Regions from separate parts of the Homo sapiens genome. Here region 2 is linked to region 1. The links come from fine-mapping of genetic effects on gene expression. Tissue or cell type: whole blood. Region 1 holds a variant in brackets; the other region holds the start of a gene. All regions are shown on one strand. Distances are from middle to middle.

Region 1 (5,151 bases):
CCCAGTAGGGGCGGCCGGGCAGAGGCGCCCCTCACCTCCCGGACAGGGCGGCTGGCCGGGTGGGGGGCTGAACCCCCCACCTCCCTCCCGGACCGGGCGGCTGGCCGGGCGGGGGGCTGACCCCCCCACCTCCCTCCCGGACGGGGTGGCTGGCCGGGCAGAGGGGCTCCTCACTTCCCAGTAGGGGCGGCCGGGCAGAGGCGCCCCTCACCTCCCGGACAAGGCGGCTGGCCGGGCGGGGGGCTGACCCCCCCACCTCCCTCCCGGACGGGGCGACTGGCTGGGCAGGGGGCTGACCCCCCACCTCCCTCCCGGATGGGGCGGCTGGCCGGGCAGAGGGGCTCCTCACTTCCCAGTAGGGGCGGCCGGGCAGAGGCGCCCCTCACCTCCCGGACGAGGCGGCTGGCCGGGCGGGGGGCTGACCCCCCCACCTCCCTCCCGGACGGGGCGGCTGGCCGGGCGGGGGGCTGACCCCCCTACCTCCCTCCCGGACGGGGCGGCTGGCTGGGCGGGGGGCTGACCCCCCCACCTCCCTCCCGGACGGGTCGGCTGCCGGGCGGAGAAGCTCCTCACTTCCCAGACGGGGTGGCTGCCGGGCGGAGGGGCTCCTCACTTCTCAGACGGGGCGGCTGCTGGGCGGAGGGTCTCCTCCCTTCTCAGATGGGGCGGCCGGGCAGAGACGCTCCTCACCTCCCAGACGGGGTCGTGGCTGGGCAGAGGCGCTCCTCACATCCCAGACGGGGTGGCGGGGCAAAGGCGCTCCCCACATCTCAGACGATGGGCGGCTGGACAGAGACGCTCCTCGCTTCCTAGATGGGATGGTGGCCGGGAAGAGGCGCTCCTCACTTTCCAGACTGGGCAGCCAGGCAGAGGGGCTCCTCACATCCCAGACGATGGGCGGCCAGGCAGAGACGCTCCTCACTTCCTAGACAGGGTGGCGGCCGGGCAGAGGCTGCACTCTGGGCACTTTGGGAGGCCAAGGCAGGCAGCTGGGAGGTGGAGGTTGTAGCGAGCCGAGATCACGCCACTGCACTCCAGCCTGGGCACCATTGAGCACTGAGTGAACCAGACCCGTCTGCAATCCTGGCACCTCCGGAGGCCAAGGCTGGCAGATCACTCGCGGTTAGGAGCTGGAGACCAGCCCGGCCAACACAGCGAAACCCCGTCTCCACCAAAAAAATACGAAAACCAATCAGGCGTGGCGGCGCGCGCCTGCAATCGCAGGCACTCGGCAGGCTGAGGCAGGAGAATCAGGCAGGGAGGTTGCAGTGAGCCGAGATGGCAGCAGTACAGTCCAGCTTCGGCTCGGCATCAGAGGGAGACCGTGGAAAGAGAGGGAGAGGGAGAACGTGGGGAGAGGGAGACCGTGGGGAGAGGGAGAGGGAGAGGGACAGGGAGAGGGAGAGGGACTTGGTTGGCTTTTTAAACAAAAATGAACACCTAGGTCCCATCCCATACCTGATGAGACCAGAGGGGTCAATATCAAGACTCAAGCACAGAGACAAAGAATTGTGAAGAATAAGAAGGGTAGGGGAAAAGAATTTTTTCTCTGTTGAAGATGCAAGTTCTTTGCAATCGTATGAAGGGGGACTCATGAAGGCTTAAAAGGAAAAGTTTGGAATCATTGCCACCAAAGACGTTAAAACAAGTCAAGTGATAAAAAAAGTTTACCATGCAGCTCAAAGGGCCCACTTGAAGGCAGAGAGCAAGGATTTATAGCAGAATCAATCAACCTTTCAATAGCCAGAAGGAAGAGAGGAGGGAAGGTACTGATGAGTTTCCAAAGGATTAGCTATTAGTAAGACAGGCACTGAAGGACGTCCTGAAGGGCAAGTGTAGTCATCATTTCCTAAGGTGGCCATAACAAACTGGGTGGCTTAAAACAATGGAAATTTACTGTCTAACCTCAGTTTTGGCAGTTAGAAATCAGAAACCAAAGTGTTGATGGGGCCATGCTCCCTTCAAAGCTTCTAGGGGAAGATTCTTCCTGGCTTCCCCCAGCTTCTGGTAGCCCCAGGTTCCTTGGCTTGTGACAGCATAACTCCAATCCAATCTCTGCCTCCATCTTCCAGAGCCTCTTTCACGTTGTTTCCATCTGGCATTTTTCTGTGTGTGTGTGGGCATGAGTGTGTGAACATATGCATAAGTTTCCTTCTTTTTATAAGGACACCAGTCATATTGGGTTAGAGCCCACCCAAATGACCTTATCTTGTTTACATCTGCAAATATCCTATTTCCAAATAAGGTCATTTTCACAGGTAGCTCTTCAACATATGTTTTTGGGGAACATAATTCAACCTATAACAGCAAATATCCTGGGAAGTTGAGAACTCAGTAGAAACTGTTGAATGAGGGGGCTGCTCAGGCTGAATAGGAAGACAAGCCAAGATGGCTGATGTATAAGAAGGGGAGGAGGGGAGGAGGAGTTAGGGAAGATGCTGTAAGTTGTGTAAGAATCCTCACTACCACCATTCAACCCAGCAATCCCATTATTCGGTATATGCCCAATACCCAAAGACATCATTCAACCATAGAGACATATGCATGTATATATTCATTGCAGCACTATTCACAATAGCAAAGACATGGAATCAACCTAAATGCCCATCAACAGTAGACTGGATAAAGAAAACATAGTACATATACACCATGGAATACTATGCAGCCATAAAAAAAGAATGAGATCATGTCTTTGCAGCAACATGGATGGAGCTGGAGGCCATTACCCTAAGCAAACCAACACATGAACAGAAAACCAAACATCACATGTTCTCACGTATAAGGGAGAGCTAAACATTGAGTACCCATGGACACAAAAAAGGGAACAACAGACACCAGGGACTACTTGAGGGTAGAGGGTGGAGGAGGGTGGGGTATCAAAAAAGTATCTATTGGGTACTATGCTTATTACCTGGGTAATGAAATAATATGTACACCAAACCCCTGTGACATGTAATTGATCTATAGAACAAACCTGCACGTGTTCCCCTTAAACTAAAATATAAGTTAAAATAAAATCCTCGTTAAATCACTGCCTGAAAGTCTTTA[C/T]TGAAAATCTGGGAGAAAATATATTGAAATGTTAGTAGTGCATAACTTTAATTTTTATACTTTTTGCATCTTACAAACTTTCTACAATAAGTACACATGACTTATATAAACAGAGAAAAGCAATCATTATCTTAAAAATAACTATCCAGTAACTGCCACAATCTCCTGAGTCCAGACAATCTAGAGCAGAAGGGTAGACTGAGGAAAATATACACAGTATAAAAAAGTAACAAAATCAAAACCTGAAACAAAGATCAACATCCAATAAATGCTTCTGAATAAAGGGAGAGTAGATAAGAACTGGATTTTAATCCCAACACTGCCATTTACCAGCTGGCCAATACTGAGCTAGTTACTCTAAAGAGTTCAGTTTTCTCATTTGTACAAATAGGATTTGACTTTCCATCTCACTGAGTTGTGATGAGAGTCATATGCAACAGCATATGAAGAGGCTAGCAAAAGATATTTAACAAGCGTTCAACATTCTCATGATGACATGAATAACACTGTACATACAACATACCAACTTGATAAATACACAGCACAGTTAATAGCTGAGGGCAGAGTTATGGTTGGGAAGAGAGAGAGTGCAACATAGGCAGAGTGAGGGGGGATTCCCACAATTTTCTAAGACAGAAAAGTGGGGGAATCAGTAGTTACTGGAAAGAATAGGCAATGCCTGACTGGATAGAAAAAGATTCTATGCCTTTGTCAAATTTCACAAAAGTGACTTAAGCCTATACTGCGGGATGTTCACACTACGTCCCTTTAGTGCAGTTACGGTACTTCAGGCTGCAAGTAACCAAATACAACTAAAATTGTCTTATACAATAAGGGCGTAATTATCTCATATAACAAGAAGCTTGGCATGAAGGAAATTTCAACAATTTCACAACGGCAACAAAAACTCTGTTTCTTCTACCTTTCCACCATTCCTGTGTTCTCAGTTCCAATATGGCTGCTAACATCCATATGTCTTCCCCGCACATCTCTTTAAAAGCTACAAAAAGATTTCCCAAAAGCGTCTTGGAAAATTTCCTGTCCCATCTCCATTGGCCAGACCCACCTCCCATGGGACTGCCTCTTGTGAAGCACACAAAGGGCAGATACCAAACGGTACCGTTAGGGAGACCCAGAAGATGGACCATCCAGGATAGAGACATGAAGGGCAGAAGAGGGCCCAGGGATGTGTGTCCCTCAGCTGGACTACAGGGAAGGAGTTTTGGTCAGGGGAAGAAAAGCCTCATTTCCTATCAGTCACTGGTGGAATGACTAAAGATGCTAATGGACTCAACCAAAAAAATGGCCGGAGGCGTGAGACAGAAGAACAAGAAAAGGTGTGCAGGTGCACTCCGTCCACAGCGCTGTAGAAGGAGACATTCCCAGTCCCACGATCCAGGTAAACCCCCACTCGGTGGAGAGCTGGCTCTTGCTGGGTGGGAGTTCCAGGGAAGCCTATCAAGGGCCAATAGCCAGCAGCACTCCAATAAATCGCCCAGATGCCCACATCTGGGGACATTTTTGAACGATCAGTAATTCCCATGACGTCCTCCCGACACACCCCAACAGCAACCTCCAGACTATCTCTACTCTCAACTTCCCAGTAATGTTTCCCTGAGGTGAAAACGTTTTTTCCCAGAACACAGGGTAAGTGCTGAAATCTCTCTACAAAAGCAGTCTTCTGAGGATTCCTCCATCCAGCAAAGTAGTTCCATGCTGAAGAAAACACTGGCCAAGAACTGGCTGATGCTGTATTTTTCACGTATCTCCCTTCCTGGGAGAAGACGAGTTTGGGATGAGCTGTGTCTTCAGCTAGGTTTACAGCCACTGTGGAGAAAATGAGAGCTAAGTAGTGCAGCAGCTTATCATCAACCCTTCCCCAGAAATGCCCATCTTTTCCAGCATCAGTTTCATCTTTCTCCTCCTAACAAACACTCATGACTCCACTGCTGCCCAACTGATCCTCAGCCAGGCCTAGCAGGCCACAGCATGGCCTTTAGCAACCTGAAGTCCTCATTTCCCTTCTGCTCTAAAAGACTAAGCCCTAGACCAGGCGCAGTGACTCATGCCTGTAATCCCAGCACTTTGGGAGGCTGAGGCAGG
Region 2 (5,151 bases), 29 kb after region 1:
TCCTGCTTAAAATGGTACAAGAGCAGCCTAATTAGTCTTCTCTTCCATTCATCCACGTGGATGTCAAAGTTACCTGTCTAAAACAAAAAAAACGATCATATCATTCCCTGCCTTAAAACCCTTTTATAACTCCCCACTGCCTGAAAGAGAAAGTTCAATCTTTTTACTATGGCAAACAAGATCCTTCATGATAAGGCCCTGCCTTTTTCTTCAAGCTCATGGCCCACCATCCTCCTTCCCATGCTCCATGCTCCAGAAGTACTGAGCAACCTCCAGTCCTCTCACACACCACATGCTATCCCACTCCACCACATTTGGAATATGCTGTTCCTTTGGCCTGAAATACCTTCTTTCCTACCTCTACTCACCCTTGAAGAGCTAACACATTTAACTCCTCAACGGAGCCTTTCCTCACTCCTCAGTGATCACTCCGACCTCAGACCTTCTGTACACTTGGTAAATACTTCAGCTACTCTCACACACACTGAAATTAATGTTGTACACGCTTAAGTTCCTTACAAGACAAAGCCCATGTCTTTCTCATCCACTTATGTCCAGATTCTAAAACAATGTTTGGCAAATAGTAAGCATCAATAAACGTTACTGAGTGAAGGAATGAACATACACTTTCTAGTCCAGCTTTGTGTCTGTTTCCTGTTCATAGTCAGCTGGTACAACTGTACAGTATTTTACAGTTTCCAAACATTTTCACTGTGTCATTAAATTCATGTGTTTGGCCAGGAAAGCTTGCTCACGCCTGTAATCCCAGCACTTTGGGAGGCCAAGGTGGGTGGATCACCTGAGGTCAGGAGTTCGAGACCAGCCTGACCAACATAGTGAAACCCTGTCTTCACTAAAAATACAAAATTAGCTGGGCATGCTGGCAGGTGCCTGTAATCCCAGCTACTCGGTAAGCTGAGGCAGGAGAATCACTTGAACCCGGGAGGTGGAGGTTGCAGTGAGTTGAGATCTCACCACTGCATTCCAGCCTGGGCAACAAGAGCGAAACTCCATCTCAAAAACAATAATAATAAAATAAATAAATAAATTCATGTGTTCATGTACTTACTGCATATCAATTCTGCTGGAGACCACTGGAGTTACACCATCAGTAATGGGAGGGGGTGGGGCTACTCTGGAAAGGATGATCAGGGAAGGTCTTCAAGCTAAAAGCTAAAAGGATCTAAAGGATAGATGTGGGTAGAGAAAGAGAACAGACTTGAAACAAAAGCAAGAAAGCCAGTATGGCTGAAGCAGAGTAAGGTAAAGTGATTTATTCAACCGGAGCTTCTTAACCCATGAGATAGGACAGATAATCCCCAAATTCAAATGTTACAGGATTTTCCCAACTGATGAAGGAAGCTAGTAACAAAACCCAGCCTCATCATTACAAGCTAGGCTTTTCCCAAATCATCAGCTGTCTATGACATTTACAGATACAGACAGGCACTGTCCAATACAGTATCCATTTAGCCATACAAGCACCTGAAACGTGGATATTCCAAACTGCTATGTGTTGTAAATGTAAAATACACACCAATTTCAGACCTATTATGAAAAAGGAGTATAAAATATCTCATTGAGGCCGGGCGTGGTGACTCACACCTTAATCCCAGCACTATGGGAGGCCAAGCGGGGCAGATCACTTGAGGTCAGCAGTTCGAGACCAGCCTGGCCAAGATGGTGAAACCCCTCTATACTAAAAAACAAAAATTAACCGGGTGTGGTGGCGTGTGCCTGTAATCCCAGCTACTCGGGAGGCTGAGGCAGGAGAACTGCTTGAACCCCGGAGGAGGAGGTTGCAGTGAGCCAAGATCACGCCACTGTGCTCCAGCCTGGGCAATAAAGTGAGACTCCATCTCAGAAAAAAAAAAAAAATCTCATTGATAATTTTCATCTCAGCTTTGAATATTTGGGGTAATCAGATTAAATAAAATATATTATTACAATTAACGTCACCTCGTTTCCTTATCTTACCAGAAAGATTTTAAATTACATATGTGGTTTCTATTGGACAGCAGCGGCACACACCCTCTCAGTATGTTTTTCTTTATTATGAGCTCCCCAAGGGCCAGTTTATTGAAAATTCTGCACAATGATTGCTGAGGTTTGCACCTCCCCTCCTCTCATTCCAGTTTTAACCCTAGCTCTGAAATTCGTGTTTTGCTTAACTTCTTTGAGTTTCAGGGGCTTTTCATGCTTCCAGTAGGAATGACAGCCACTTCGTGGCTCTTTTAGGAGCATTAAGTAAACTTTATCGGGCAACACTGACAGCCCCGTCATAGTCACCGCGACGGCCAGCTCACCCGGTAGCTCTCGAAGGCCTCGTCGATGGGTGCCATGGCGTGAGTCTGGTGCTCCTGGGACTCCCTGCACACCAGGCACACTGGCCGCTGGTCGTCCTCGCAGAAGAGCCGCAGCGGCTCCCAGTGGCGGCCGCACAGGCCCGGGGGCACGGGGCCCAGGCGCCGGCGCTGCGTCTTCTCAGTCAGCCTGGCCAGGGCCCAGTTGGGTCGCAGCGCGGCGGGCGCCGATGGGTGCCGACATTCGGGGCAGGGGAACGGGCCGCCGCCCGGCGCCCAGTTGCGGTGCAGGCAGCCGCGGCAGAAGTTGTGGCCGCACTCGATGGACACCGGGTCCTGGAAATAGTCCAGGCAGATGGGGCAGGTCAACTCCTCCTGGATGTCCTCAGCTTCCATGCTGCTTCCCTGCCGCGGAGACGGAGTCCGACGTGAGGCGCGGGAGAGGCCAGCAAGCTGCGAGCGGCCGCGGGGAGGCCAGACGACTTCCGAACCGCCGTCACCGCCTCACGTAAAAGGGTACAACGCAGTTTCTCTTCCGGGGTTCAGGACCCAAAAAGAACGCACGGACGTTGCCCGGCCTGAGCGCGCAAGACCGGAAGCTGCTGGGTATCCGCGCCGGAACCGCGAGGGGGTTGGTTCAGGCCTAGGCGCGGGGCAGGACGGGACCGGTGAGTGGCTCCTCCAAACAGCTATAGAGACCCAGAAATGCCTGTGGAAAGCTACAGAGGACTTGGGCAAGGCGTTAGAGCCGGACGTTGTGGTCCCTGGGGGAGCCAACCGGGGAGGTGCCTATGATCTTTCTTTCCAAGTTTGAGGGTTCAGGTCTGTGTTCGCCTGCTGGTTAGACCGATTTAAGTTTTAGAGTCCCAGGAGTTCTGGGCGAGCTGCAGCCTAGGGGCCTGGAAGGCCAGGAAGACTTGAAGGATCTGTGTTGGTAGGCCTGGAGTTTGGCTAACGTGGGGATGATTTGGATTCTGAGATGCAGATACATTGCCTTTTTGGTATCCAATTTGAAAAGTAGCAACCATTTTGCTATCCCAAAGAACATCCATGGAGGCTTTCAACAAATAATATGCTCACCTGTTTCAGGGAATTATCTATATCCCTTAAGTGGATTTTCGATCTTGTGTTTCTGAGGTGCTTTGCTTTTTATTCTTCCCACTTTCTTCCTTTTCTTGTGAATATTTGTTTAAAACAAAAAAAACTCTGGACTGACAAATTTAATAGAAGCTATTTGCACAAAGAACAGTTCATGAATTGGGCAGCACTCAGAACCAAAAGAGGTTCAGAGAGCTCTGTCCAGCAGTATGACCTGCTAGCTTTTATAGGAAGCAAAGTAGAGAAATCACCTCATTAGCTAACATCTAGGTGTCTGCCTTATTTGACAATGATATGATGAGGCATTTGCCTTATTGGGGCATGGTCTGATCAGTTGGCTGTCTGTTATTTGCTGAAGCTCGGCCGTGATTGGCTGAAACCCAGCTGTTATAAAAAATAAAGTAAGTTAGGCTTCAGTTCGTTTACATACTAAGTCAGGTTGTATTTTGTTATATGGGAACTCAAGTACCAAGACAGCCTCAGGCTAATGGGCTTTTGCTTATTTAACAGATTTTTCATTCTTTTTATGTCCCAATATCAAATACTGCCTTTCCTATAATAATTTTTCTCAGTAAGTAGTATGATTAAATGATTAGAAAAAGGGGTTCTTGAGGTATCTGTTTGGGGGTTATTGATGAAAGTTCCACTGAATATTTCTAAAACATTTAAATTGGACAACTAATGAATGGATTTTCTTTGCAAATTGGAATACTCTATGGAGAAGGGATCTGGTTCTTTAATAGGGACCAAGCAGGAAGGAATGCTCTTAACAGTTACTGATGTTTACCATGAGTGTTTATGGCATCTGTGTGTCTATATGTTTACCTAAGTATTGAATGAGAAGTTTCAGCATTCCTGCAAAGTATTTATTCCCCTTACAGTAGTCATTTAAATCTTTTCAGGTAAATCCCTTAAAATCCTTATGTCTTTATTCCTGCCATACCAGAGATGACCTTCCTTCTTTACTAAGTGAGGCTCCCTAATTAACAATTTTTCTCCATCACAAAATGTCTATAAGTCTGTATACCAGCCAAGGTTCATTCAGAGAAGTGGAATCACTATGTTTCTTTATGTTCGCAGGGCAAGCAGTTAAGAAGGGAAGATGAACATAAAGTAGGGAAGAGCAAAAATGAGTTGGAACCTAAGACACGAGCTGGTCATTCTTTCACTGTCTCCAACTTTAAAGATATGAGTATCCTTGCTAGAGGAGCTGACACTTTTTGCCACAGGACTAGACACACACACAGCTCAGGAATCAAAAAAGGTGAAGGAAGACTCAGGGAAAAGCTTCTGCCCCATCCCAACAAGGTGAACCAGCTGATTGGTGACAAAGTAGATGAGCCGCAGTAGCACCTAGTGTCCCTGCACCACCGTTTCAAGTATAAAACTGGAGGGATGCTTCAGTTCTCCCCTTCAAGACTTACACAACCATGTCTCTGTTGGGCTATTCTAACCAGAAACAAAAGGAAAGGAAATTCTGGGAAACATAGTTTAGCTTAGCAAAGTTGATATATTACAAAATTACCACTGTCCACTCTGCATCGAGTTGACATCCATACAGACCTCTTTAAAACACACTTTCAAAATAAAGTCCACACCCTACACATAAGCTATCTCTAGAGAAATTTGAAGTCTGTTGTGCACTGAGGATAACCACAACAACAAACTGTAAACCTAGCCCAATTTCTGACTAGACTGATACCACCGAACCACTGCTATGCACTCAAGAGCACTAAAGGCCTAGCAGAAG

Evidence for each region. PIP is the estimated chance that this variant, and not a neighbour inherited with it, causes the effect.
Region 2: it holds the start of TRIM4, and the variant in region 1 is fine-mapped to the expression of TRIM4 in whole blood (TOPMed, PIP above 0.99).

The regions. Positions count from the first base shown.
Region 1 is chr7:99,887,872-99,893,022 of GRCh38, forward strand. TRIM4 (tripartite motif containing 4) reads right to left here. Exons shown (of 6, transcript NM_033091.3): 6 at 2,532-4,875. The coding sequence ends at 4,292. Among named protein-coding and RNA genes, the nearest start is that of OR2AE1, 13 kb to the left of the region's middle. RefSeq lists an enhancer at 1-166. The variant C/T (reference allele first, on the strand shown) is at 3,049.
Region 2 is chr7:99,916,703-99,921,853 of GRCh38, forward strand. It overlaps TRIM4 (tripartite motif containing 4), which reads right to left and starts at 2,828. Exons shown (of 6, transcript NM_033091.3): 1 at 2,307-2,828. The coding sequence starts at 2,699. It overlaps LOC101927610 (a long non-coding RNA gene), which reads left to right and starts at 2,901. Exons shown (of 2, transcript XR_001745296.3): 1 at 2,901-3,125; 2 at 4,482-5,151. RefSeq lists a silencer at 2,400-2,559 and enhancers at 2,690-2,739, 2,770-2,849, 3,090-3,199.